Linked DNA regions of Homo sapiens. The protein of the gene in region 1 purifies or fractionates together with the protein of each later gene. This does not show direct contact. Each region holds a gene or a part of one and is shown on either strand. Other genes may lie near its edges. The genes, in order: ASB12, DHX36, GLO1, CADPS2, PFKFB3, MTHFD1L and RBM6.

The links.
Region 2: the proteins of ASB12 (region 1) and DHX36 purify together in Homo sapiens (affinity purification with mass spectrometry, with the first as the bait; one large-scale study listed by BioGRID). This does not show direct contact.
Region 3: the proteins of ASB12 (region 1) and GLO1 purify together in Homo sapiens (affinity purification with mass spectrometry, with the first as the bait; one large-scale study listed by BioGRID). This does not show direct contact.
Region 4: the proteins of ASB12 (region 1) and CADPS2 purify together in Homo sapiens (affinity purification with mass spectrometry, with the first as the bait; one large-scale study listed by BioGRID). This does not show direct contact.
Region 5: the proteins of ASB12 (region 1) and PFKFB3 purify together in Homo sapiens (affinity purification with mass spectrometry, with the first as the bait; one large-scale study listed by BioGRID). This does not show direct contact.
Region 6: the proteins of ASB12 (region 1) and MTHFD1L purify together in Homo sapiens (affinity purification with mass spectrometry, with the first as the bait; one large-scale study listed by BioGRID). This does not show direct contact.
Region 7: the proteins of ASB12 (region 1) and RBM6 purify together in Homo sapiens (affinity purification with mass spectrometry, with the first as the bait; one large-scale study listed by BioGRID). This does not show direct contact.

Annotation. Positions count from the first base shown.
Region 1 is NC_000023.11:64,227,388-64,232,051, forward strand, and holds the start of ASB12 (ankyrin repeat and SOCS box protein 12), read right to left. Parts: upstream 3,221-4,664; 5' UTR 3,076-3,220; intron 1-3,075. UniProt on the Homo sapiens protein: Probable substrate-recognition component of a SCF-like ECS (Elongin-Cullin-SOCS-box protein) E3 ubiquitin-protein ligase complex which mediates the ubiquitination and subsequent proteasomal degradation of target proteins.
Region 2 is NC_000003.12:154,279,488-154,282,987, forward strand, and holds part of DHX36 (ATP-dependent DNA/RNA helicase DHX36), read right to left. Parts: intron 1,376-3,500; coding exon 1,276-1,375; intron 1,183-1,275; coding exon 1,092-1,182; intron 1-1,091.
Region 3 is NC_000006.12:38,678,622-38,682,838, forward strand, and holds part of GLO1 (lactoylglutathione lyase), read right to left. Parts: coding exon 4,187-4,217; intron 3,481-4,186; coding exon 3,391-3,480; intron 1-3,390. UniProt on the Homo sapiens protein: Catalyzes the conversion of hemimercaptal, formed from methylglyoxal and glutathione, to S-lactoylglutathione. Involved in the regulation of TNF-induced transcriptional activity of NF-kappa-B. Required for normal osteoclastogenesis.
Region 4 is NC_000007.14:122,386,102-122,390,318, reverse strand, and holds part of CADPS2 (calcium-dependent secretion activator 2), read left to right. Parts: intron 1-1,580; coding exon 1,581-1,736; intron 1,737-3,145; coding exon 3,146-3,293; intron 3,294-4,009; coding exon of another isoform or gene 4,010-4,024; intron 4,025-4,217. UniProt on the Homo sapiens protein: Calcium-binding protein involved in exocytosis of vesicles filled with neurotransmitters and neuropeptides. Probably acts upstream of fusion in the biogenesis or maintenance of mature secretory vesicles.
Region 5 is NC_000010.11:6,215,911-6,220,127, reverse strand, and holds part of PFKFB3 (6-phosphofructo-2-kinase/fructose-2,6-bisphosphatase 3), read right to left. Parts: intron 4,004-4,217; coding exon 3,937-4,003; intron 3,423-3,936; coding exon 3,348-3,422; intron 2,994-3,347; coding exon 2,937-2,993; intron 1,580-2,936; exon of another isoform or gene 1,557-1,579; intron 610-1,556; exon of another isoform or gene 560-609; coding exon 435-559; intron 1-434. UniProt on the Homo sapiens protein: Catalyzes both the synthesis and degradation of fructose 2,6-bisphosphate.
Region 6 is NC_000006.12:151,099,401-151,102,803, forward strand, and holds the end of MTHFD1L (monofunctional C1-tetrahydrofolate synthase, mitochondrial isoform 2 precursor), read left to right. Parts: intron 1-67; exon of another isoform or gene 68-595; intron 596-2,125; 3' UTR 2,126-2,487; downstream 2,488-3,403. UniProt on the Homo sapiens protein: May provide the missing metabolic reaction required to link the mitochondria and the cytoplasm in the mammalian model of one-carbon folate metabolism complementing thus the enzymatic activities of MTHFD2.
Region 7 is NC_000003.12:50,068,817-50,073,033, forward strand, and holds part of RBM6 (RNA-binding protein 6), read left to right. Parts: intron 1-1,638; coding exon 1,639-1,736; intron 1,737-4,217. UniProt on the Homo sapiens protein: Specifically binds poly(G) RNA homopolymers in vitro.

The DNA.
Region 1 (4,664 bases):
ACCCACACTCAAACATACACCAAGAAAGCTCTTCAAAAGGTCATCTTTGTGGTTAAATCCAGTGGATATCTTGAAGATCTTTTCTTCCCTGACTTTTCTGGAATATCTATCCCTACAGACCACTCCTCCCTACAAACTCCTCCATCAGCTTCTTTGCCAGCACACTCTCCTGATTTTTCTCCCTTCCCATTCTCCCCTGAAATATTTGTGTTCTCTTCTCCAACCTCTTCTCTCCAGTCGCTCTCACCTTTATTCTGATTATTTTAAGCGTCTCTATCCGAGCCCCCAGCTCTCTCTTTAGCTCCAGGCATGTATCCACTGAGTTTCTTCAAGCACTTCAAAGACAGCAGTATCACATCACCACCACTACCACCATGACTAAACTTGATCCATATATCATTTCCTCACCATCTACCTGGTCAACCAAACCAAAAACCAAGACTCCTGTCAATGCTCTTGCCTCTTTATCCCACTCTCATAAAATCCCATCAAGTCCTGTGGATTTTACCTACTAAAGACTTCTCCAGACCATCTGTGCTCTTCAGGGACCATTCTCATTGACTATGCTTCATCTAGGCCCCCACTGCCTTTTGCCTCAGCAGTTATAGTGGTCTCATAGGTAGTTTCTCTTTTCAATATTTTCTCCACATTGTTGCTAAAGTGGTAATTTAAAAATACATATCTGATCTCTACCAATCCTCTGTTTTAAATACCTTAATGGCTCCCCTTTCTTTCCAGCTACAGCCCAAATACTTTAGCCCAGCTCAGAGGTCCTTCATGAATAAATCTTGGCCAATCTCTCCAGCCTCACTTCCTACTACTCCTTGACTTATATCCTGAGGTCCAGTGACAAGAGACAAAAAGTGATGGCTCTCCATATACACCATGTTTCTTTCTGCCACATGCAACTCCTTCTGCCAAGTTAATTCCTGCAGAGTCTGTGTTATAGCACTATAGCAGTCATCACACTGTATTGTAACTTCTATATGGGTCTTTGTTTGCCCTAGTGCAGATAAAGAGGCCTTATGTGGTAGTGGCAAAACATGGGAGTTCTGCTTCTACCCCAGCTCTAGCATTTAGTAGCTGTGTGACCTGGGGCAGGTCACTTAATCTCTCTGTGCCCATTTCTTCATCTGTAAAGACAAAATAACAATAGTATCTGCCTTGGAGGGTTCTTAGGATTAAATGAGTTAGTACATAGTAAGTGCTTAGAATAGTGCCTGAAAGTAGTTCTCAGTAACTATTTTTACTATGATGATGATTGTTACTTATGTCTCCATTTTCTAAGGCTATTGCTCCCTACTTAATGTTCTAGAACCTCAGAGCTGCAAGGGACCTTGTAGATCATTTAATTTAATTTTTTCAATTTACAGATGGGGAAACCAAGGTTCAGAGCAGAGCAGGGACTTTGGTAAGGTCACATGGTTGTTATTGTTAGTTGTCTCATTAACAAGAACTCAGAACACACTTATAATCCTGTGCTTTTCAAAGCAATTTCATGTAACAAAATAGGTAATATTATCCCCATTTTTTGGATGGAGGAAACTGAGTCCAGAGAGGGTAAGGGGTTTTCCATATACCTTACATCAAGGCAAAAGCAGAGTCAGAAATAGAATCCAGGTTTCTCTACTCCTCCTCCTGTTCTTTCTATTACAAGATGAAACACAAACACATACCCCCCTCCCTTGACTCCAGCAGTCACATTGCAGCTCCCAGGATCTTCAGCTTTTGAGTGTCATGCTGAATTCCAGGGTCTTCGGTAATGGAAGGTTCCTTTACAAATAATTTATTCTGATAACTGGTAGGAATTCCCTCCTTAATATTTTATTTTGGCGACTGGGATCTGGGCAGATAATTGGCAGGGAGTGGCAGAGGGAAGTGCTGAAGTTCTTGCTAAGGTTCATACCAAGAGCCCACAGCAGAGCTCATATAATGAGCCTCCAGAGGGAGACCAAGCCATGCTCTCCAGCTGGCTGTGGCACTGGAGTGAATCGTGCCTCCATTAGATAAGGACAAGGAAATCCAGCTAGCCTGTTGTCTTACCTCACTTTGCTGTAGTTTATTAATCAAAGAGTTACTATGTGCCTGTTATGTGCACGTAGCTCCTTCCTGATCCTAAAGATGTAGGAGTTTTAAACCTTTTTTTTTGTGATATTGGTTCCTGTGACAAACTAGCAAAGTCTGTAAACACCTTTCAGAATGGTTTTTGCTACATAAAACACATAAAATTAAAGGAAACCAATTATATTAAAATGTGACTGTCAAAATATTTTTAAATGCATGATATAGTAAGAGATGTTCTTTAGTAACACATTAAATAAAAAGGTCTAGTAATAATTTCTAAGTGGTAATAAATGACATTTCAAGATCTCTGCCACAACTGTAATATGATATGAAATATCTGTGGTTTCTTCTGGTAACCAAATTACATGAACTGGTTATGCTACTGCCATTTGATACCTGCATTCATCCTTGAAGGAAATAGTACATTTTAGTTAGAGGTTAGGGGGAAAAAAGGTAATTGTCTATTCATCCAAGTTTCTGGACCCCTTGAATTCTATCTAAGGCCCTCTTGGTGTCTGTCAATCCAGGTTAAGTACTCCCACAGGAAAGTGGTTGGTTTCCGTGCATCCTAGAGCATTCCTTCAGGCATTAGCAGAACGTTTTTAAGCCTCATCTTCCTTCTCTCACCCTTACGAGTTCTGCCCTTATGCCCTTAAACCCACTCTAAGGCACCCACACACACAGACTAGCCAACACCACACAGGGACACAAAGACAAATCTCCACACTTCCTGTAGTGTATAATCACAATTGCTCTCAAGAAGCAGGTCTGTTTAGACCCGAGGTCCTAGGCAGACATATCCTCTTGGGACACACAAGGCAGGGAGCTGGCATTATATCCCTCCTCCCTCCTCCTGGTGGGTTGCCCTAACGACCTTCCAAGCGCCTCCCCCAACTCCCACCACGTCCCAGACCCAGCGGAAACAGCCTACAACGGGAAGTGGGTGATCACAGGTCTGTGGGCCCGCAGTGGTCACTCTTCTCAAACCGGTCCTAGGCTCCAGGTACTCACCGGGCTTCAGCCTGAGGCCATGCTGCCCAGGGTCGCTGCCCCCCGCCCCTCTGTGAAACATTGGGGCCCTGGTGTCCCCTCCTTAGGGAGCCCCCACGGCCCCAACCTGGAGCAGCTGGGGCTCTCGTTTCCCACTGTTAACAATGCCGTTGAAAGACTAGGAGTCAGTCCCTAGTCTTGGTCCAAGGGGCTAATTTTAGGCTACCCTCCACCCCCTCTTCCCAGGCCGTGTTATCTTACCAGTGCCATTCTGGGAGCGATTTCAGTAAGAGGAGGGGCTCTCCCATGGGGAAGTCCTGGAAGGACTGACTGACAGATAGACAGGTGCCTGGTGAGGCTAGGGTTCCTGCTCCCAGCCTATCCTCCTATATCCCTCCCTGCCACTCAAATGGGAGACAGGGTGAGGCCCCTGAGCTGCGGTTGTTCCCACACCTCCACCAGGGGGCACTGAGAAGGTCCAGCCTCAGCCTAGCACACTTTTTTTTTCTCTTTTTTTTTTTTCTAATTATACTTTAAGTTTTAGGGTACATGTGCACAACGTGCAGGTTAGTTACATATGTATACATGTGCCATGTTGGTATGCTGCACCCAGTAACTCGTCATTTAACATTAGGTATATCTCCAAATGCTATCCCTCCCACCTCCCCCCACCCCACAACAGGCCCCGGTGTGTGATGTTCCCCTTCCTGTGTCCATGTGTTCTCATTGTTCAATTCCCACCTATGAGTGAGAACATGCAGTGTTTGGTTTTTTGTCCTTGCGATAGTTTGCTGAGAATGATGGTTTCCAGCTTCATCCATGTCCCTACAAAGGACATGAACTCATCATTTTTTATGGCTGCGTAGTATTCCATGGTGTATATGTGCCACATTTTCTTAATCCAGTCTATCATTGTTGGACATTTGGCTTGGTTCCAAGTCTTTGCTATTGTGAACAGTGCTGCAGTAAACATACGTGTGCATGTGTCTTTACAGCTGCATGATTTATAATCCTTTGGGTATATACCCAGTAATGGGATTGCTGGGTCAAATGGTATTTCTAGTTCTATATCCCTGAGGAATCTCTTCTTTTTTCTCTTCTGAACTGAGCCTCTCTGCATATCCTCCAACTCGTTGCCCCTCCCCTTCCTTCACTGCTCAGAGTGAGGAGGAAGGTAGGAAGGAGAAGCCTCCATAACAGAATGTGTTCTCACTCAGCTTTTCTAAAGCTTAAGAAGGCCTTGGTCATTTATAAAGACCTTCCCAGTCCACTGACCCACCAGGCTCAGCCTGAAGAAAATGCCCACAACCTCCCACTATCCTCACCCTAAAGCATCACCATTACTTTAATGTGTCCAGCACTGGAAACTTTGTCAAAAACTCAGCTCTCACTTTTTCTGCCCCAAAACAGCCCTCTAGGGATCTGAACCCAGATATTATATCCTCCATGTCACCTTGTTTCAGGGAAAACAGCCCCAGCTCCTTCAACTATTTCTTTCAATCTGTTATCTATTTAGTTCCCTCCCCAGTCTTGTCTACCTCACTCATGAAGTGGTCAAGCAATCTGCTTGCACATTGATAGTGCCAGGGAGCTCACAGAAGACCAGATAA
Region 2 (3,500 bases), on another chromosome or scaffold:
CAAGTATTATTTTGAAAAAGTACTTAGGTCACTTAAAATGTGAATAATCCAACCACAATGATTAAAATTCATCAGCTACCCATTACTTTATACCTTGGAATAGGGTTTCTTGACTTTAGTACTACTGACACACTGTTATGACAACCACAAGTATCTCCAGACACTTTCCAATGTCCCCTTTGGGGGCAAAATCATGCCAGTTGAGAACCACTGCCCAAGAACAATGTCTGCACTTTGGCCTATCTTTAAAGTCTTTATTTTTTCATGTTTATAATTCTAGAATATCCAACTTTCATTTAACATCAGTTTAAATACTTTACATGTTACTACACAATGACTGTTTTAATGCCCACCTATGGAGATGCATTACAGTATTATAAAACCACAATTTTCCCATGGCTACTAGAAATCTATATTATTTACAATATAGCTGTTAGAAAACATTTGAAATTACTTCCTTAAGACACATCTATCAAATTAAAAACTCATGCACTGGGTCACTGACTATTTTAATGATTCAATCATAATTCTAATACAGAGTGTCTTCCAAAATAGCAGCAACCACACTACTGGCCATTTGTGACTCTTAGTTTCTCTGTATCCTTTAGCTAGAATGAGCTCATTCTAGCTCATGCTTCACTGTTGTCTCCAATTACTACTGAGGCTACCTGTAAATATATTATTACACTTTATTTCTCAAAATAGTGAAATCACAATGTTATTCAAAGAGCTAAGTTATCCATTTATAAGGCAAGAGGAAAAAAGTTTCTGAAATAAAATCTACTCTAAGCAATTTTTATCCAGCCACTGGTATTTACTAGCAGGCTGGCTCTTCTAATATTTACACTGGTATCATGTGGTAGCATTCTTTGTGAATAATGGGTTATCAAAGAGGTGATTCCAGGATGTGTTGTGAGGGAAAGTGATACCAATGGCTAAACAGTTCACCTTCTCTGAAATGATTAAAAGAACAAGAATATAACCCACATATGAATAAGAACAAATTTATAATATAAGCCTTGTTACATGAGCAGATTTCAAAAGTTTAAGAAGAGAATTACGAGTAATTAATAATAATCTTCAATGCTTACATTTTTCTTTTTTTACCCAAATTTAGTCGAATTTTAGCAACTTTGGGATATAAACCAGCACAGATGACAGCTTTAATTATCTTCTCATTATCTATGGGGGGTGAGAAGGTAGAGGGGAAAAGAAAAGTAAAATACTGATACAATAGACAAAAGATACTTATTTACACTGTGTTTCCTGCTGTACCTGAATTTATATTAGATTCTGGATCTTTAGGATTTCTACTGCTTACAAATCCAGCTCCAAGAAGATGCTCAGCAAACTGTCCTTTCATGTTATGCAGCATCTAGGGAGCAATGGTAACAAATAGAACTAGAATACCTTTCACACATTGAGGCTATAAACCATACACTAATAGATAAATTGAGTTGTAAGCTATCCCTGCTTTATGAAAACACTTTAGCAAACATGTTTTAAAGCAAGGGTTGGCAAACTACAAAAGCTGTTTTTGTCAATAACATTTTATTGGAACACAGCCACACCCATTCATCTACATTTGGTTGTTTTTGCACTACAATGGCAGAGGTCAATGCTTGTAACTGAGATCTTATGGCCTGTAAGCCTAAAATATTACCCGACTTTTCACAGAAAAAGTTTGCATGTTGTAAGGAATAGCCACTGATGTTTAAGGATTACTCTATTTTGTGAAAGACTAATAGAATTTTTAAAATTACTTTCCACCCCCATTTTTTAAAAAATATAGAAAAGCATAAAGAAAATAATCCACATCCATATTTCTATTACTGAGAATTAAATATGGTTAAAAATGGCAGGTAAGCTTAAGGTTTTGTTTTTTTTTTAAATAATGATACATGGCTTATTACAAAGCATTCAAGTAACATAGAAAAGTACTTCCCTTGCCTCAATACTCAGTCTTCTAAATAAATAAGATTGCAGACACCCATTAAGTATATATACTGATAGAAGAAATGCATCCTAATAACAGAATCATAGTATAGAAATTCTTTATAAAACAATTAACTTTAGTACAATTTAAAGAAAAGTTAAATAGAAAGGAAAGTGAATGACCAGATGAATCTTGTATTTTCATAACAGAAATATTTCCTAAGGAATTCCTTTTAGAGATTATGAAACATAAAGTTGGTTATATTTAAGTATATATCCCTTTTATGAAAGGTGTGACTTTCCCCACCTAATTTTTCTGACACCTGACTTTCTTAGACACCTCCTGGTTTTTACTGCCATTATTTTATACTGTTCAGGATAATAATCTTTACATTCTATTTTGCATGTGTAATTCCTAACACCATTTTGTTATTAGCTCTATATTTAAATACTTCTAATGTATATACACCAGCTGATTAAGCATGCACTCTCCATTCCTGAAATCTCCACTGTGATTCCCCTTTTAACTAACAGCATTTCACCGTCAATGGGCTTTTCAAGAAGAGCTCAGGGGTACAGTATTTCTTGAATGCCTGTTGTTTTTCTTTACACCTGAATTCATATCCTGACTGGACATGACATTCTCAAACACTTGGATTCAGTTATGTTTTCATGCTTCTGTTCACTTCTCTGTTCATTTCATTATTTCCATTTCAAAACGTGTTCTTACATACATCTCAAAATAAACGTTCAATTACACAGGATTTGTATGCAGACACTAATGTCTACTGTTCTCATAATGGATGAGTCCTGTCTTCCTGTCTTTAAGATTTTACTTATTGCTTTAATTTTTGTCTTTTTCAGGTACCTCCATAAACTGTGATTACTTCAAGCTTTTTTCCTATGGCAATAACTTGTTTTTAAGGGGTGTCCATTCTGTTCCTTGTGATTTCTTTTGATCTTCAATTTGTTTTCTTAGCTCAGGTGTCTTTTCATTCACTCTACTGTTTATTTTCTAACCTATGTTTTGCTGAATTCATATTCTTATTAGCTATTCCATATTATGAAACAGTTTAAAGGTGTTTTCTACTGAAACATGGCATTCCACTCTTTTTTTTTTCTTTTCCTTTCCTTCCGAATTGTGGTGATCCTTTTTTTCCATTTTGCTAATGACTGGGCACTTCTGATTTGGTATGTTAGATTTTTTTGTTTACTAATTTGTAGATCTGTTAAATGTCCAGTATCAGGCCTCATGTCACATAGCTGGAGTGTATGTGTACTGGGAGAAGATGAGGATATTTCTATTCTCACTGGCTTCGAATACCCAGTTCAGTGTAGTCTGAAATGTGATGGCATATGCCCTCTTTACTGTTTTCTTCTGTTTTACAAATGCTTGCCTGTGGTGTTTCACTATACTAAACCAGAAAACTTACAGATATCTATCCTATTTGATACTTTTCAACAGATTTTAGTAGTGTTAGCAAAAATTCTCAGTTTGAATCATCAAAATAGCAACTAGAATGTGGGGACAGGAACAGAAATCGAACCCTACTGTGCCTTGCTCT
Region 3 (4,217 bases), on another chromosome or scaffold:
CCTGCCCTCTCGCTTGTTCAGATGTCCTTACCAGTAAACAAGGGCAGTGCAGGAGCCTTGTGCTTGTGAGAAACTGAGAAAAACTGGTAGGGCCGAATGATCTCCCCAGCCCTCTCTCCACGCCCAGGGCTAGGGAATAACACTATCGGAAGTGTCTCCTACTAATACTCTTCCCTGAGGGATGAAGTGGGAAGATCCAACCTGAAGAGGTGTTTTGTGGAAGGTGAAATAAATTTAAGTCTCATTTCTAGGTGCCTAGGAATCTCTGGCCTAGGCTTATCCAGCCCATTGTCCTGAGATCATGTGGGTTGTTAAGGACAGGGATCTGGCCATTCTCCTATTCACACTGCTTGATGTGTTAGAATAGCGAACAGTTGCAGGGGAAAAAAGCTCAGAGGCAAAAAATAATAATTTGAGAAACATAACCATAAAACACCCCCAAAGCAATGGACTGTAGATTCAAACAGAAGAAATATTAGAATAATGGACCAAGAGCTATTTTTGTTTTTTTTCTGGAGACAGGGTCTTGCTCTGTCGTTTATACTGAAATGAAGTACAGTGGATCATAGCTCACTGCAGCCTCCAACTCCTGGGCCCAAGCAATCCTCCCACCTCAGCCTCCCGAGTAGCTAGGCATACAGACTACAGGCATGTGCCACCATGCCCAGATAATTTAAAAAAAAACCTTTTTGTAGAAACAAGGTCTTCCTATGTCACCCAGGCTGGAATGCAATGGCACAATCATAGCTCACTGCAGCCTTGAACTGCTGGCCTCAAGTGATCCTCCCGAACCTCCCAATCCTCTGCCTCGGCCTCCCAAAGTGCTGCAATTACAGGCATGAGCCACCATGCCCAGACCCAAGGACTATTTAGACATGTAAAAGTAATGACCGGCCGGGTGTGGTGGTTCACATCTGTAATCCCAATACTTTGGGAGGCTGAGGCAGAAGGATCACTTGAGGCCAGGAGTTTGAGACCAGCCTGAGATACATAGTAAGACCCTGTCTCTACAAAAAATAAAAAATTAGCCATACATGGTGGCATTTGCCTGTAGTCCCAGCTACTCAGGAGGCTGAGGTGGATTATTGTTTGATCCCAGGAGTTTGAGGTTGCAGTGAGCTATGATCACACCACTGCACTCTAGCCTGGGCAACAGAGCAAGACTCTGTCTCAAAAAAAAAAAAAAGTAATAAACAATATGAAATATTACCAATATGAAAAAAAGAACAAGAACATATTAAGCAAACTAAGCGAAAATTAGAGATCAAAATTATAACAGGTGTTTAAGAACAAAATAGATGAATTAAATATCAGAACAGATACATTTGGGAGAAAATTAGCTAATTGGTATTCCAGTTTGAGGAAATCTCCCAGAATGCAGGCAGTGACAAAGAAATAATATAAAAAGCTTCTAGAATAAAACAGAAGAATATACAAAGGAACATGAATTGACAGATTTTTCAACAGCAACATCATATGCAAAAAGAAAATAGAAGAGTATTTTCAAGACTGAAGGAAATTAAACCTAGGCTTTTCCATAAAACTGTCCTTCAGACATAAAGGCATCATCCTCAGTTACACAGAATCTCAAAAGTTTTGCCTTAAAAACCCTTTAAAGGGCTGGGTGCGGTGGCTCATAGCTGTAATCCCAGCACTTTGGGAGGCTGAGGCAGGCGGATCACCTGAGGTTGGGATTTTGAGACCAGCCTGACCAACATGGAGAAACCCCGTCTCTACTAAAAATACAAAATTAGCCAGGCACGGTGGTGCATGCCTGTAATCCCAGCTACTCGGGAGGCTGAGGCAAGAGAATCACTTGAACCCAGGAGGCAGAGGTTGCGGTGAGCCAAGACCGTGCCATTGCACTCCAACCTGGGCAACAAGAGCGAAACTCCGTCTCAAAAAACAAAAACAAAACCCCTTTAAAGACCATTTTGGTTGAGGTATTTAAATAAAAGAACAGAAAAATCCAAAAGATGCTAAAAAGGCTGGGCATAGTGGCTCACGCCTGTAATCCCAGTGCTTTGGGAGGCCAAGGTGAAAGAATCGCTTGAGCTCAGGAGTTTGAGACAAACCTGGGCAACATAGCAGGAACTCATCTCTACAAAAAAATAAAACAATTAGCTGGGTGTGGTGGCATGTGCCTGTGGTCCTAGCTACTTAGGAGGAGGCTGAGGCAGAGGATTGTTTGAGCCCAGGAGTTTCAAGGCTATAGTGAGCTATGACAGTGCCATTGCAGCACCCCAGCCTGGATGAGAGTGAGATCCTGTCTCAAAGGAGACACTACAAGAGATATATGAAGAAAAAGTGATCAAACACCGTGATATATTTATTATTATCTTTAAAAAATAAAATCAATACTATCCCACTCTAGGTAATAGTGACACAATGAGGACAGAGTGAAGCAAATTCCTTTCTTATTGGGGAGAAGATTTGGATATTAAATATATATATATTTTTGTGACGGAGTCTCACTCTGTCGCCCAGGCTGGAGTGCAGTGGTGCGATCTTGGCTCACTGCAACCTCCACCTCCCAGGTTCAAGCAATTCTCCTGCCTCAGCCTCCTGAGTAGGCGGACTATAGGCGCCCACCACCATGCCTGGCTAATTTTTTCTATTTTTGGTAGAGACAGGGTTTCACCATGTTAGCCCAGATGGTCTGGATCTCCTGACCTCGTGATCCGCCCGCCTTGGCCTCCCAAAGTGTTGGGATGACAGGTGTGAGCCACCACGCCCAGCACTGGATATTAAGTATTTTAATTTTTTTAAAAAAGGATTGAAATTAAACAGTGAAATATTTCAAATGTTTAGATTGAGACTCTGAAATATTTAATATTTCAATTTTAATTTGAAATAGTTCAGAAAGAGATCTAAGTAAAATAATAACAATACATGTAAACCCAGCAAAATCCATACGTAGGCTATTTCAAAAAACCTACCTAAAACTTAAGGACATACAAAGGTTATAAAAGATGAAAAAGAAATACCATGTGATTATAAACTAAAGAGAGCTGGTGTCATTATATGAGCATCAGATAAAATGGACTTTAAGGAACTTATTTTTGGGCGGAAAGATATACACTGAAATAGTGAAAGCTGGTGGCCAATGAAAGAAAGTGGTGGGGTCGGGCAGTGGGAGAGGAAGCGTAGGGTTTTGATGGCTGTCCAGGTCCTGTGTCTAGTGCCTTGGAAAGCCACCCTAGTTGCTGTCTTTCAGTTCCCTAAAATACCCAGATATTCTTCCAATCATTTCTCTTTTTTAAAACTCTGGTTGAAGTGGAGACTTCTGTTACTTGTAGCCAAAAGGGTTTTACTACAACAGTGGCCTCTGTAGGTGGTTAGTAAATATCAACTAAAGACAGGCCTGAACACAGTAAGTAGTAGACTCACCATCATCAGGTTTCTTCACAAATTTGACTCCCAGTTCTTCAAACCTTTTACAAGCACTGTATACATCAGGAACAGCAATTCCAATATGACCTTACGTGATACCCCCCGAAAAAAGCAGAGAGAAGGAAGAAATAATTATAACAGGGTGTCCAAGTACCACAAGTAGATTCCAAAACTTGTTTATTTCAAAACATAAGGCACTTGGGAACAGACTTAGGTAGGTTCAAAATCTATAATACATTAAAGAACAAATATAGATCTAATGGGCTGGGTATAAGTAGTTAATTAGTTGCCTTGAATTATAAATTATTTAAAATTAATCAATATCAGCTCATATACAGTCTAATCAGTTAAGAATAATCGACACCAAAAAACAGTAATCATTTACTAATACTTAATAGGTTTGTGGTTGGCATTGACTATAGCAGCCAGCTGAAGCCTGCAATACTGTCATCTTGATTGAGAGACTGGAGATCAAGGCAGAAGTGTATGTGCTAGCAGAAACTGGGATTAGTATTAACTACAGCTTTTTTAAAAAAAAAAGTCTACTGGAAATTAATTCTGAGACTTAAAAGTAAATCATGGTGAGATGGTAAGTGTAATTTTAGATCGAGACTCTGAAATTAAACAACTCCTAAATAAGATTATTTGTGGAAAATAAAAATAATCATATCTCTAATAAATTGATCATACTTAATTAGGACATTAATGTTTTAGGTTTATTAAAATCATAATTATATACATAATACAAAATCACACAAATCTACATATATCACATAAAAACAGGCAAACTTACCGAATCCTCGAGGGTCTGAATTGCCATTGTG
Region 4 (4,217 bases), on another chromosome or scaffold:
ATATATATGGCAAAAGGAGAAATAAAGGTAGTGTTTTTTTCAACACTTTCACTGTAGTATCAGAATGGTGTTGTCTAGTTCTCTTATTTAATGGTGCATTTGAGGCACTGAATATTACGGTGAAGAGATTTAAGTGAGTAAAGTGCTACGGGAGTGTTCAGTGCTTTGCTATGATTGGTCCCTAGAGAACTTAAGTCTGAGGGCATTTTGGCTAGACAAGGAGATCAGGAGGAATTACTGGCAGAATGAGAAGAGAAAAGCAGTGTAGGTTTGTGATAGAGCTTTGACGCTGAGGCCAGGGTGGAGGGCAGGAATAAGCTTTTCATTAGTCAAGAGCAAGAGGTGCCTTTTTTTCTAAGCTAGCTCATAAAGATATATTTAGCGAAACAATGTGGTGCTTTAAACAATTTATTTTTTTTTAATTTTACTTTAAGTTCTGGGATACATGTGCAGAATGTGCAGGTTTGTTACATAGGTATTTTCCCCTGTGCTGTTGTAATAAATGAGTTTATTTCTTTAATTTTCTTTTGTAAACTAGAAATATAAATTTTAAGTTAGTATATGTGAAGCAATTGTGGGAAAGCTGAGAACAAATGAATCATACAGCAGCTTTTTTTTGCTTTTGCTTTTATGCTTTTTATGGTTAAATTTCAATATGTTTTAATGTAGGAATATTTTACTTTCAAAACACTTGTTTCTGTATTAGCCTATGTACTTGCATAATGGAAAGTAATAACCATTTGCCAAAATATTATATGTACTCTTCTATAAGTTACCTTCTAGAAGGTAACTTCTATAAGTTACTGTAACTCTTCTATAAGTTATCTTCATACATGGGGTGATAGCACTCCTGTAGAGTAATTTTACCATAATAGTGAATGCTTAGCAAATCTTGGCTCCACAGTTAGATATAAGGACCTGAAACGCATTGTTTTTCTCCATCTTCAGAGCACCCTGAATGTCATTTCTCTGTCAGACAATACCTTGCACTAAGTTGGGTTTTAATAAGCCAGAAAAAGCAAAAAATGAAAATAAAAGATTGCTTCCCTACCTAGCCCGTTTTATTTCCAGTTCCTGTCTCATCTTTACCTGTAATTGAGAAATTCAAGGACCCTATGTTCTACACACGTGTAGATAGACAGAAACCACCATGGTGACAGAGGCACATATGCATGAATAACGGCAAAGGTACTGGTTACTAACATAAGGATTTTCTTGCATAAAACATAATTTTGGGGATTTGCAAGAATCTTTATCCTAGAGATTGGTAAAGAACAGTTACAATGTTTGTTCTTATGTACACAATATAACTTCCTTAGTAAAGTATACATATCCATTTTACCTCTTTGTATGAAACCCTACCACCATATTTATTTCTATTTTGTTCTCCTTGCCCTGCCTTATTAAGAATTGTAGAGGAACAATTAGAAGGCTGAACAAAGAAAATATTGGATCATTAGAGACTTTATATGGTATTTTTTTCACTGATGGCAATTGATGCAGAAAAGAAAAAACAATGTATTAATGGTATACCTAATTAACGGGGAGTTCATGATGTTCATTTTTCCTTTTTCTTCTAGCAATGGCTCAGCAACATCAGAAGACCTTTTTTGGAAGCTTGATGCACTGCAAATGTTTGTCTTTGATCTGCACTGGCCAGAACAGGAATTTGCCCACCACTTAGAGCAAAGACTTAAACTAATGGCCAGTGATATGCTAGAGGCCTGTGTCAAAAGGTAGACATGTATTTTCAAATTGCTGCTTAATGTGCCAGCACCCAAAAATATCACTTTTTATCAAGTACCTAATATATTATTGTCACAGCAAAGGTTTCATTATGCACCACTATTCCAACATTTAATGAGTATTAGGTTATCTTGATTAAATTCTGGGGACCCATGTAATTGATGAAATTGGCTGGATACTTTTTTTCAGGTCTCCCAACTATTGCCTTAATCAGTAACATCTATACCATATTAATGGTTTCTTTAGGGCTTATTGTTATCTCTCTGGGAATACTATGCTTTAAATTCCCAAGGTAATATCTCCTGAGACGTATGAAAAAGGTCTGTTATGTTCTGTATGCATTATGTACTGTGTCTGTGTGCTGTGAAATGGCATAGTAAACTCAAAATAGGATCAGCACCATCAGTTGTTCTGGGATTACTAACTATTTTCTGTCCACATCAGATGAGTTCCAACTATCTGCTTACATTCTTTATCACTTAACTGGAAATAAGTTATGAGGCTTCATATTCTTCCAAATGTGCTTTCATTTTATCGTAGTTTTAAAAAATCAGCTTTGCATCCTAATTGGTCAAGCATTTTTTTCCCATTGTCCTTGTTCATTATATATACAAGGACAATATGGAGCCACATATTAGAAAAGTGTTCAAACACTGGTTAGACCAATTGGATATTTCTGAAATCTTGAAACCAAGAAAAAATCTGTCTTTAGAATAATGTTCAGTGGCCCCTTAAGGCAAGGCCCTGGATTAGGTAGTTTAATGTTTTTTAAAAATCATCTTTGATTTTGATGTCTCGATTCTGTGGATTTTCATAGGATACTTCAGCAAAACCAATTCCAAATTGCTCATGATGCAGTTCCTTTCAAAAACCTGCCTGCAATTTTAGGTTTTTGAAAGAGAATGTAAGTGACATAAAAGAATTACACATTGTCTGTTGTACATTGATTACCATGTTTTAGGGTTTTCTAGGTTTGTGCTTATTTTTTCTAATTTGGTAAGACCTCACATAGAGGATATATTCTGCTTAAATGCATACAAGTGTGTGATTTTTCTACTTGGAAATTCAGACAATTAATTCAGACAATTAAGTGAAATTATGAGTTTTTTTTCCATTAAATGTGGTACTCTAGATATAACAAAAAGCTTCATTTGGGTGGCAATACTGCCTGAGTGACTGCATGAAGCTAGGCTTAATATAAAAATATGACAATCTGATCTTTCATTGAGACACTTGAAAAGAAAAGCATCCCACCCCTTAGCTCCCAAGCACTGCCACACTGCTTACTCCTTATTTGCATGTTTTAAATTAGCATCTTGTAGTGTTGATTTCACTTTTTACAAAACAGGTGAGCTGTATAGCAGAATTTCTTACTCTGAATTCATGTTTTAAAAACTAGAACAAGAACTGCATTTGAACTCAAGCTACAAAAGGCAAGCAAAACAACTGACTTGCGCATTCCAGCTTCCGTTTGCACTATGTTTAATGTATTAGTCGATGCCAAAAAGCAAAGCACCAAACTCTGTGCCCTGGATGGAGGACAAGAGGTATGTAGAATGTGCCACATGGGGAAAGGCAGCACAGGGTGCCTTGGCATGGGAAATGCCCTTTCCACAAGGCATTCTCTTGATTGGATTGAAAAGACCAAGTTCTCTAGCACCAAACGTTTGATCTTTACTATAATAACAGAATGCCCTTTATCCTTTGCTCATGTCAGTTTCTCCTTTTTGATATAAATATGGTCTAAAATTGCATTAGTGGCCATGAATTTTAGATATAGCTTTTAACAGCTGAAGTGTTGTGTCATTTACATAAACCTTGCTTTTTACAAGCAAATGAGAAAGCTGGAAAGCTACCTGTTTTGTTTATACAAATCTAGAGTATCCAGAGTTTGCATCTATAAAAGTAAGACACACGAAAAAGTGTGAAATAGTTTATTTACACAGTAGCTTCCATTTTTAAAAATTTAGGTTGAAATAGACTTAAAAATCTAGGCCTAGTTCTTATCAATAAATATCCTATTCTTTCTATTTTATTTATATTTTGTTTGGTTTTATATTCAGAAGTACAATTTTATTTTACCCCATGATTTTTTGTTGAGAGTGGTGATTGGGTGAAAATTGATTTATTTTTCTTCAATTATCTGTTTTAAGTTGATTTTGTTGCCTTTTTTTCCCATTGTAATTACTTTTTCTTCATTTCTTTATTCTTCCCTTCTGTTCTCTTTCATCATCTTTTTTTTTCCACCCATGGCATGATCCAGTTTGGTAGTCAATGGGTAAGTCTCATTTTTTTTTCTAAAAGCACATTTCATTTGAGTTATTATTTTTGTAAATGTATATTTTTTATTTTCATCTTTTCAAATTAAAATTATATAAATTTATTTTCAGATTTTTGGCTTCTGTGTTCGCATATATAAGGCTAACAGCTTACAATAACATAGCAATAGTCCAAAGATTCATGAAAACACT
Region 5 (4,217 bases), on another chromosome or scaffold:
CCTGTCTCTAAGCAAGCAGGCAAGCAAGTAAGTAAGTAAATAAATAAATAAATAAATGGAAAGAAAGGAAAGAAAAAAGAAAGGAACTATCGGAGGGACAGTAGCAAAATCAGGCTCAACTCTATGTTGACTTCCTGTACTTCTACACAGTGTTCAAAATATTCCCACTGAATATGATTTGTCATCAAGGATTGTTTTTAAAAGATATTTTCAAAGAGAGTTGATAAAGGTATCCAGCGGCTGTATGTGGATCACCTGAGGCCAGGAGCTCAAGACCAGCCCGGGCAACATAGCGAGACCTCATCTCTACAAAAAAAACTGTCTTAAAAAAATTTTTTTAAAGGTATCCAGGAGCAAATCCTTTGTGGGAACATCAAGAATTCAGTAAGAACCCTCATGTGGGTCTTGCAGAGACGGCCAGCCACGGGAATCACCTGTCGCATTTGTCGGGGTCGAGGGGCTGGTAGCTGGCTTCATAGCAACTGATCCTCTTCATGAAGTCGTCCATGGCTTCTGCCGAGTTGCAGTCTTTGTAATCCGGGCTGGAGATTTTAACTTCCTGCAACACCACAAAGGGGTGGCTGATAAATCACGCTGGAAGGCTTTCTGCTGAGATTAAGCAGGATTTGGGGCTTTCAAAAGGGGAGCGCACAGAAGGCTCAGTATAAAGATTATCCGGCCCAGCGTGTAAGAGAAAGGGAGAAAGATGCTGGGGGCTGAGTCACAGCCTGATGTTACATGGGGAGGATTCCCTGGGGAGATGGAGAACTGAAGCCGGAAGGACAGAGACAGGAAACCCACAGGGATTCCATAATGAACACCTCTGAATGCTCCAGCAAGTCAGGATCTGTCCCGTGCCCGAGTCACCGCCAGACAGCCTGGCGCTGAACTCAACCGAGCTCCACGTGAGGATCCGCAATGCTCCCCGTGCCGGGAGGAGGCTGCTGGTTCTAAGGTATGCTCAGGAGTTCCCAGAGATGCCTCTGGCCTTGTGTGGTTTCTCCTCCACCCCCCACTGCCTGAGGCAGCCCCAGTGTGACCAGTCCGTGGTTAACTGCTTCTCCAACTAGGGCTGTGCCGGCTCCTTTGCAGGGCTCGCTCTCCTAGGCAACAACACAGGTCTACCAACACCCACAGTGGCACAGGCCCCAGAAACCAGGTGGATTTTAGGGAAACTCAGCATTTCTGAATGCCTGGGCTCTTTTTCTCATCAACCACTGCCGTCACTGAGAGGCAGCCACTCTTCAAAGATCGAGTCAGTCGGGAGCTGTGCCTGTGTCCTGGCACAGTTTCAGCCGGGGAAGATGAGAAAGTCCTGCGGATAGAGTGTGGCGGTTGCCCAACAATGGGAATATAATTTGCTGCTGTACTGCACACTTAAAAAATAGCTAAAATGGCCGGATGCAGTGGCTCACGCCTGTAATCCCAGCACTTTGGGAGGCCAAGGCAAGCAGATCACTTGAGGTCAGGAGTTTGAGACCAGCCTGGCCAACACAGTGAAACCCCCGTCTCCTCTAAAAATACAAAAAAAATTAGCTGGGCGTGGTGGCGCACACCTGTAATCCCAGCTATTCGGGAGGCTGAGGCAGGAGAATCGCTTGAACCCGGGAGGCAGAGGTTGCAGTGAGCCAAGACCGTGTCACTGCATTCCAGCCTGGGCAACAGAAGGAGAGTCCGTTTCAATAAATAAATAAATAAATAAATAAATAAATAAATAATAAAAATGATTAAGATGGTAAATTTTACATTATGTATATTTTACCACAATTTAAAAAAAAAATCTAAGTTCACAAATGCCTGGCTCTACCAAGCTGCTTTGAGATTTCATCAGAAAGAGATTTCTGAACATGGTGGGTTGGGGCAAATGATTATCTGCTAGTGGACAACCAGACAAATGCTAAACTCCTTGCTAAGCACATTGGTGACCACTCACTGGGAAAAATGACTTCACAGCTGCACCCTGCTGTCTACCAAGGGGAACAACGAGTGCCCAGCCAAAGAAAGGTGGCAAACCCTCATACTCTGAGCCTCCTGCTCCCACTGGACAAATCTAAACTGACTTTTCACAATTCAAATAGCCCTTCCTGAAACAGGAATTCATTTCCTAAAGATATCTAGAAATACTTCCACCACCTTGGGGAAGATACCGGGGCTAACACATGCTTAGCATCCCCTCTAAAGGTGCAAAGATGCCAGCACCACAGCGTCCCAGTGTTAAGTTTTCAGAACTGCTTTTCTTTATAGAATTGTCATATTCTGATATGTTTAAGCTGAAGAGGAAATTATCTCCAACACAGGGTGGCAGCTTGTAGTAAGTCTCCATAGTAACCATTCCTGTTTATATATATTGCTATCAAGTGGTAACACTGGAGAAATTCATCAAGTTATGATGCCAAGTGCCCTCAATTTATCTGGGCAAGCTCCCCTGCACAGCACAGACAGGAGGGTTTGTGGCAGGTTCACGAGATGCATCAGCAGGAGGAGAGTCTTACCTCCCAAACTCAGGAGGCTGCTGAGCCCTATGGACTTTTGCCAATGCCCAAGCATTCTTACCTCCTGGAGCTGTAGCAAGTGATCCACTTGCTGCCACCTGTCCCATTAGGGGCAGTGAGCGGCCCTCTGCCCCAGCAGCTCCATCACCACTAGCTGTCAGGCTCCTGCCACCAACAGAAACTAATCCTATCTCCCTGAATTATTTCCTACGTCCCATCCAAGCCTGCCCACTGCCCTGGATGGAGCTAGTCCCTCACAGGACAGGCCTCTGGGTTAAAAACCGCTCTGTAGGTCTGACCTCCCAATCAACAGCCAGCTGGGGGCTGCTCATCCTAAGGGCTCAGCTGCGCTTCCGAGCCGGACCCGGTCCCCCACTTCCTCAGACTGCAAATGCCCTTGTGGTCTACGCTGCCGCAGAAGCACGGGGCTCCCGGCTGTCTTACCATGATATTGGAGGCCACAACTGTAGGGTCGTCGCACACCGACTCGATGAAAAACGCCTGGTGGAAGTGAGGTGGGGATGTTAGAAAACAAACACCACGAAGGATCAACCTTGCCATCACTGCGATGTCATCACCCGGACAAGGCGGAAGCACGCCACCCACCAACTCCCAAACACAGGAAAGCCCACCTCCTCACTGCAGCCTCTGGAACGCCCCATGGCCCCCAAGAGCCCTACCACACAAAGGCCCAAATTTAAGGCCACAAAACGTGGGCAGCAGGAGGGGAGGGACCGAGCAGGACTAAGGAACATGGGCAGCAGGAGGGGAAGGACCAAGCAGGACTCAGGCCGCTTCCTGAAGCCTTTTCCTCTCTCCCGAGCCCTCTAGCACAACACAAGACGCTCAGCTCACCTTAAAGTCATTTTCTTTGGCAAAATGAAGGATCATGTGTCTCCTCTCTCTAGTAGTATTGGTGGCATCGAAAACCTGATATGGAGAGCAAAGGGCCAGGAAGAAAACTCTAAGTTTGAGTTTAACAACGTTTACCAGAACAGCAAAGATGCCAGACCCATCATCTCCAGGAATAAGCCCCAAAAGTGCTTCAGGGGAGCTTGTGCCTGCCCACAGTCCTCTCCAGGGAGTGCTTAGGAGGCAGGCCTCCCGCAACTACCAACAGCACTCAGGGGTGGTAGCGTGGGGGAAATACCCCAAAAGCAAACAAGCAAAACAGTAATGTGCAATGGGACAGTGTACAAGGAAGGGCCAGTGGTCCTGTGGGTAACTCGAGTCCTGCCCGCCCTGGAGGTGTGGGACTGGCCACAGAGGGGGTGGGTCCCTGAGTCCACCCCACATCCTCCTTCCTGAGCCATTGGGCTGCCCTGGCCACCTGCTTTCCTCCACCCTCAGGGCCAGAGGCACAGGTCTCGGTACACCCCAGGCCGGTGAGGACACCCTCATGGGTGGGACTGGACACCGAGCCGGCTACATTGCCTGGACTTACCGCAATTTGTCCCCCTTCTTTCGCCAGGTAGCTTTTGACATCTCTCAAGGCAGCTAAGGCACATTGCCTGGAATGCACAAGACATTGCCCGAATGTCAGCGCCGGTGCATCCGCTGGGGCAGCCCAAGCAACTCCCGACACGCCCCGACAAGCAGAGTAACTGGTGGTTCCATTCTACACTGCTTAGCGCTGGGCAGGCTGGCCAGCACCCCTCAGGCCCAGAGGCTTCCAACCTGGGGCCCCACACGGGTGGCCTCAGGAACCCTCGGGAGGCGGTGCTC
Region 6 (3,403 bases), on another chromosome or scaffold:
AAGGGATACCAGAGCCACTACAGTGAGGCTGGCCGTGTCTCTGAAATATTTTCTTTTTTTTTTTTTGCCCTTCTCTCTTCCTCGGCGCTGCCTATGGAGGTGGCAGCCATCTCCTCCTCGGCATCTTGGCCGCCCTCAGACCCCTTGTGAAGCCCAAGATCGTCAAAAAGAGAACCAAGAAGTTCATCCGGCACCAGTCAGACCATTATGTCAAAATTAAGCGTAACTGGTGGAAACCCAGAGGCATTGACAACAGGGTTCGTAGAAGATTCAGGGTCCAGATCTTGATGCCCAACACTGGTTATGGGAGCAACAAAAAAACAAAGCACATGCTGCCCAGTGGCTTCCGGAAGTTCCTGGTCCACAACGTCAAGGAGCTGGAAGTGCTGCTGATGTGCAACAATCGTACTTGTGCCGAGATCGCTCACAATGTTTCCTCCAAGAACCGCAAAGCCATCGTGGAAAGAGCTGCCCAACTGGCCATCACAGTCACCAACCCCAGTGCCAGGCTGTGCAGCGAAGAAAATGAGTAGACAGCTCGTGTGCACATTTTCTGTTTAAATAAATGTAAAAACAGCCATCTGGCATCTTCCTTTAAAAAAAAAGAAAAGAAAGAAATATTTTCTTTCTTTTCTTTTTTTTTTTTTTTTTGAGACGCAGTCTCGCTCTGTCACCCAGGCTGAAGTGCAGTGGCACGATCTCGGCTCACTGCAAGCTCCGCCTCCCGGGTTCACGCCATTCTCCTGCCTCAACCTCCAGAGTAGCTGGGACTACAGGCACCTGCCACCACGCCCAGCTAATTTTTTTGTATTTTTTTAATAGACACGGGGTTTCACCGTGTTAGACAGGATGGTCTTGATCTCCTGACCTCGTGATCCACCCGTGAGCCACCGCGCCTGGCCTGAAATATTTTATTTTTGTTCATCTTTGTTGTGCTTATAATACTCCTGTTTTCTGTTTATTCCCCTGACTTGAACCAGATGTTAGGGGAGTATTTGAAGCTCCTCGTTCCCTCTCTTCATCAATATCTTCTGTCTAGAAACTAACCAAGCACCTTATCTGGCTCCAGACCTCTCAGTGATCTGTGGGAGGCCAACTCGCAGGATTTCAGCAGAGTTTGCACTTTCTAGGCCTAAAAGATAAGTCCTTCCATGTGTAAGTTCAGATTAAAGGCAACATATTGCATTTACATTTTAGAGAGGTGAACACATTATTTTCTGGGACTTAAGTGTTGTTTTGTTTCTTTTTTTTTTTTTTAATGTAGTTTATTTCTCTTTCTAAGAGATTACAGGATTCAAGAATGGCAATGAATCTTAATAGCCTTTGGGAGAAAGCAGCAAAGCTTTAATACTAAGTTCCAGGACCATGAACTTCCATGTTGTCCTAAATGCATTTTTCAAACATTGCTTTCTGTGCCTACTCTATAAAACCTAAAAATCCAAGGTGACAGTATTCCTTATCTAAAATCCTAAACAAGGCTGGGCGTGGTGGTTCATACCTGTAATCCCAGCACTTTGGGAGGACAAGGCAGGCGGATCACTTGAGCCCAGGAGTTCAAGACCAGCCTGGCCAACGTGGTGAAACCTCGTCTTTACTAAAAATACAAAAATTAGCCGGGCATGGTGGTGCACACTTGTAATCCCAGCTACTCCGGAGGCTGTGGCGGGAGGATTGCTTGAACCCGGGAGACGGAGGTTGCAGTGAGCCGAGATCTCGCCACTACACTCCAGCCTGGGCGACAAAGTGAGACTCTGTCTCAAAAAATTAAAAAAAAATTTTTTTAAATCCTAAATATTCTCATTCCACAGGATCCTGCAAACTGTAGATCCCAAACTTGGAAGTTCTGGGAATTCTGCCAGTATCCCCAAGTAAATCTCTTGGGAAGTTTAGAATGCTGCATGGCGTAGCTGTGCCTGCTCTTATAGAGTGGTGCAGACTCTGCTTCTCCACGTCTGCTAAGTAAAATATTCCAAACACAGATCAGCCTTATCTAGCGAACCATCACTCTGCTCTTGAATTTTCTTTTGGCCTCAAACTCTAGAGCTATAACATGTTAACGGTTTAACACCAGAGGAGAAAGCTATTCTTAAACTACTCAAACATGGTTTTTTTTTCTATTTTTCAGACTCCTGAAACAGACTACTCTTTGCCTTTTTGCTGCAGTTGGAGAAGAAACTGAATTTGAAAAATGTCTGTTATGCAATGCTGGAGACATGGTGAAATAGGCCAAAGATTTCTTCTTCGTTCAAGATGAATTCTGTTCACAGTGGAGTATGGTGTTCGGCAAAAGGACCTCCACCAAGACTGAAAGAAACTAATTTATTTCTGTTTCTGTGGAGTTTCCATTATTTCTACTGCTTACACTTTAGAATGTTTATTTTATGGGGACTAAGGGATTAGGAGTGTGAACTAAAAGGTAACATTTTCCACTCTCAAGTTTTCTACTTTGTCTTTGAACTGAAAATAAACATGGATCTAGAAAACCAACCAGCAAGTTTTCAGTGCCAGATAAAACTCTGCGCTCTAGAGGTAACTCCTCATGGGAGGCAGCTAGGAGTGTTACCTGACACCAGTTTCCTAGAAAACTGTGACAAGCAAAGCAATAACACACGTCGAGAAATATCTGATCAAGCGGGAAATCTTCTGACTGTCGGGGATCTCTAGTAAGATCTCTTGGAATGAAGTGCACTGTGTATCCAAAACTATTTTCCAGCGCCAGTGAAGTTGCTCTTACCTAAAACAAATGGGTTTATGCTAGTTTCCACCAAGGAATGAGTCTCGATGGCCATTAAACTTTCTAAGGCCCACAGGGCTAGGAAAAGTCGCTCTTAAAGGTCAGGTGTTTGGAAAATGTTTTTCCTTTTGCCCAACCCTTAATTAGTAGTAGAGAATGTTCTGTGGCCTATTCCCCTCTCTGGGAGTTCCTGACCCTTCTTTGTTTTCCAGTTTTTCCTACAATAATATAAAATTACGTAAAAGTTAAAACAAAACCAAGGATTCAGGAAGAAACAAGCAGTGATTGTCCTCTAGGCAGCGTAAGGAAAATAGTCACCATAAATATCTTAGATGCCCCCCAGGCACATCCTGCAGGATCTTTTCTGCATCCTCTTGTCCTACACCCTCCAGTGACCCTGCTCAGCCATTGCTCAGCCCATAATGCACCTTTATGCACAATTTGTCCCAAAACACTGTTTAGTAACTCAAAAGCCTCCCACTCAAAAGCTGTCTGTCCCAAGAATAATTTCACTTGGCAATTCTGAAGTGTCCTTCCCCATCCCTGCCCTTTATTTGGGAGTACACCTCTCCAAATATACAGTTAACTGATGTTTTACTGTTTATTTGGAGAGGTGTACTCCCAAATAAAGGGCATACCCTCTCCCTTTACAGTAAATTTGTAAACCCT
Region 7 (4,217 bases), on another chromosome or scaffold:
ATATAGACTTCATAGGCTGTGCTGATCCCTCCTTATAAGAAGATGGAGAACAAAAGCAGCCTCAAAAGATAGTGCATACATTTGCCAAATTATATAATACAATCAAAATAGGTGCTTTTTATTATTTGTAAGTTTATACTTCAATGAAGTTGATATCTTTTTTAAAAGGTGGTGTTAGGGTCTCTAGGTAGATAACACTCCTCTTTCCTGCTTAGCTTTTAAATTAGTTGAGTTAATGAACAAGTGTTGAATAGCGCTGCTGAAATAGCATCTTTTACTATTAAAGGCTAAGCTGGAGGAAGTAGCTTAGTGTCAGAGTCAAATGGACTTGCTACCTCAACCACACAGTTAGGGTGAATTACCCAGTCATAGGCTTCACTGGCCTCTCTCATGATGGTTAAGAACCCACCTATGGGTCAGGCACGGTGGCTCACGCCTATAATCCCAGTACTTTGGGAGGCTGAGACGGGCGGATCACTTGAGCTCACAAGTTTGAAACCAGCCTGGGCGACATGGCGAAATCCTATCTCTACAAAAAATATAAAAATTAGGTGGACATGGGGTGTGTGCCTGTAGTCCCAGCTACTTGAGAGGCTGAGGGAGGATCGCATGAGCTGGGAGGCAGAGGTTGCAGTGAGCTGAGTTTGTGCCACTGCGCTCCAGCCTGGGTCATAGAGCCAGACCTTGTCTCAAAAAAAAAAAAAAAAAAGGAAGCCACCTGTGGAGAGCCAGGCACAGTGGCACATGCATGTAATCCCAGCAGTTTAGGAGGCTGAGGTGGGAGAATTGCTTGAGCCCAAGAGTTCCAGGCTGCAGTGAGCTATGATCACAGCCCTGTACTCCAGCCTGGGTCACAGAGTAAGTCCCTGTCTCAAAACCAAACAAAAGAATCCACCTATGGAGGACTGTTAGAGATAGTGAATTCACAAACTGAACTGGCCATAGGACAGTGGAAAGTAGATTGTAGTATTTTTCCTTTCCTTAGAGTTGTCTACTACAAAGAACCACCTCTCCATGTAAGAGCTGCTTTGGACTCCTTAAGTTTTATATTATATGCCCGAGGGCTTGTATAGTGGAGGGCTTGTGTACTTTCCCCTGCTTCTCAGAAGGGGAAAAGACAGCGGAACCAAGCGTGCCAACTTATTCTTTCCAAATGTTTAAGTTAGGAAGTCACTGCTTTCTCTAGAAGAACGTGTAAAGGAGTGAGAGATTCCAGGAGTTACCAAGTGAGCTACTTTCACTTTAAAAGAAATAACAAGGCCGGGTGCGGTGGCTCACACCTGTAATCCCAGCACTTTGGGAGGCCGAGGCTGGTGGATCATGAGGTCAGGAGTTCGAGACTAGCCTGACTAACATAGTGAAACCCCGTCTCTACTAAAAATAGAAAAATTAGCTGGGCATTGTGGCACTCACCTGTAGTCCCAGCTACTTGGGAGGCTGAGGCAGGAGAATCGCTTGAACCTGGGAGGCGGAGGTTGCAGTGAGCTGAGATCACGCCAGTGTACTCCAGCCTGGGCAACAGAGTGAGACTCTGTCTCAAGAAAAAAATAATAATAATAACAGCAATGGGGTAGAATTTCCCCACTCCCCAATTCCCTCAGGTGGCAATCTCAGGTCTGCTCTTCTGCTTACCAACAGGGAAAGTTTAAAGGAAGAGGAAATGATCGCAGGGAAAAGCTCCAGTCTTTTGACTCTCCAGAAAGGAAACGGATTAAGTACTCCAGGGAAACTGACAGGTAAGCCAGGAACTCTTCATTCAGCCTAGGCCTCAAGCCTAATGATAAAACCACCTCCTCCTTCAACTGTACTGCTGTTTTCTGTCTCAGGGAGATGATATTATGAGTAGATTCTGTCTGAACTGCTAAAACATGAGGTCTATGCCAGCCTTTTTACTATCTGTCTTTATACGGGGAGTGTACATGGAAGGTTGGCTGGCAGCTTCGCCTTCCCAAAGCCAGGGCTGGAGTAGCCATGATCGGGAACCCTTTCTGTCTTCATCAGTAATACTGCACCCTCTTTACGGGCCTGATAAGAATGTCACACTCTTGGGCTTTTTCTCTAGGGAACCTCCATTCTCACACATAGGTGCTAAATAAATGGTTGGCTGCTGATGGAGATGTATGATATCTAGCTTCCTATACTTGTTTTCAGTCAGCTAGTTCCCAAGTTGTAAGCCCAGAGTTATATAGAATTTGTTGATAACCCACTGTTTACAGGTGTCAAGTGCAAGAAATACTCAGGTGGACAAGACATAGATTATCCTTGACTGAACACAGAATAGACAAGACTTAGGTGATGGTGCGTCTCATAGGGCAGACACAGAAATCAGTGGGGAAGGGAAGGGCATTTCAGGGAATTTCATATACCAGGGATATAAGAGCTTATGATGTGTTTGAGGAGTTGCAAATAGTTTGATGGTCCTGAACACTGCAGGTATATTGTTGAGTGACAGTAGATAAGCCTGGTCCAAAAGATGCAGGCCAGTTCATGAAGTTTAAACACCTTGAACACCTTGCTAAGGCTTTATCTTAAAGGCAGTGGACGGTCATGGAATAATTTTAAGCAGGGTATTGACTTAGCTTTGCATTTTGGAGAGATTACTAATCATGTGGAAGATGAGTTTGTAGAGAGACTAATGCATTATGCAAATTCTATAGTAATTCAAGTGAAAGATCATGATTGCCTGAGTGAAGGTGATGAGTCTAGAAAGGAGAGTGGCCTATAATCCCAACACAGAGAGGCTGAGGAAGGAGGATCTCTTGAGCCTAGGAGTTCCAGGCCAGCCTAGGCAACATAGGGAGAAGGGAGACCCTGCCTCTATTTAAAAAAAGAAAAGAAAAGGAGTGTGGCTTAGAGAGAGGTGTCAGATCTGCCAGTCTTTGTGATCACCTGGGGAAAGGGAGAAGTCACTGATGGTGTTCAGGTCTCTGGTCTCTGGATAGCTAGGAGGAGAAGGGACAGTAAAGTCCTTGAAAAGGAAAAATGGGGGCCAGGCGTGGTGGCTTACGCCTGTAATCCCAGCACTTTGGGAGGCCGAGGCGGGTGGATCACAAGGTCAGGAGTTCGAGACCAGCCTGGCCAAGATGGTGAAACCCCTTCTCTACTAAAAATATAACAATTAGCTGGGCGCTGTGGCAGGCGCCTGTAATCCCAGCTACTCAGGAGGCTGGGGCAGAAGAATCGCTCAAACCTGGGAGGCAGAGGTTGCAGTGAGCTGAGATCATGCCACTGCACTCTAGCCTGGGTGACAGAGCAAGACTCTGTCTCAAAAAAAAAAAAAAAAAAAAAAGAAAAGGAAAGGAAAAATGGGGCCAGGTGTGGTGGCTCACACCTGTAATCCCAGCACTTTGGGAGGCTGAGGCAGGTGGATCACTTAAGGTCAGGAGTTCGAGACCAGCCTGGCCAACATGGTGAAACCCTGTCTCTACCAAAAATATAAAAAAATTAGCCAGGCGTGGTGGTGGGTACCTGTAATCCCAGCTACTCGGGAGACTGGGGCAGGAGAATCGCTTGAACATGGGAGGTGGAGGTTGCAGTGAGCCAAGATTGCACCACTGTACTCTAGCCTGGGTAATAGAGCGAGACTCCAAATCAAAAAAAAAAAAGAAAAGAAAAGAAAAGGAAAAGTGGGTAACAAGTGGATGCATGAGCAGAAGGAAAGGGAGATAATTGACAGAGCAAGGCCCTTGAGGAGGCTGGACAGGTTTTGGGGCTCTGGCATTCCAGCTTATTTGATCCAACCCACAATAAGAGAAGTATTTTTGTATCATGGCCCAATAATAAAGTGTGTGTGTGCACAACTGAAAAAGTTTTCATCTAAAATACTTTCTTACCAGGTACAGTGAACCCTGATATTTTTATTCAAGTCTAGTCTCTCTTCATTTTTATGAGTTGTTACAGTGGGACCATTTAGTGTGACATTCCATTGGGTCATTCTCTGCAATTTGAAATACAGTGGATTAGGACTAGGTGAAGGAGTCAGCCATCAGGAGGAAGGACACCTTGGCCTTGAGTCTTCTGGGACAAGGCTTAGGTGGGGTGCGGAAAGAGACCCTTCTTTATTCTCAGCACCCTTTATACCACATTCTCCTGGCTCTTCTCCTTTCCAGTCACCTTTTCTGCTCCTCTTCCTTTTCTGGATAAATCCAGGTGTTCTCTAGGACTCTTCTCTCAGTGCTTCTTTGGTCTTGCTGCTCTACCCTCTTGACCTGGGCTTT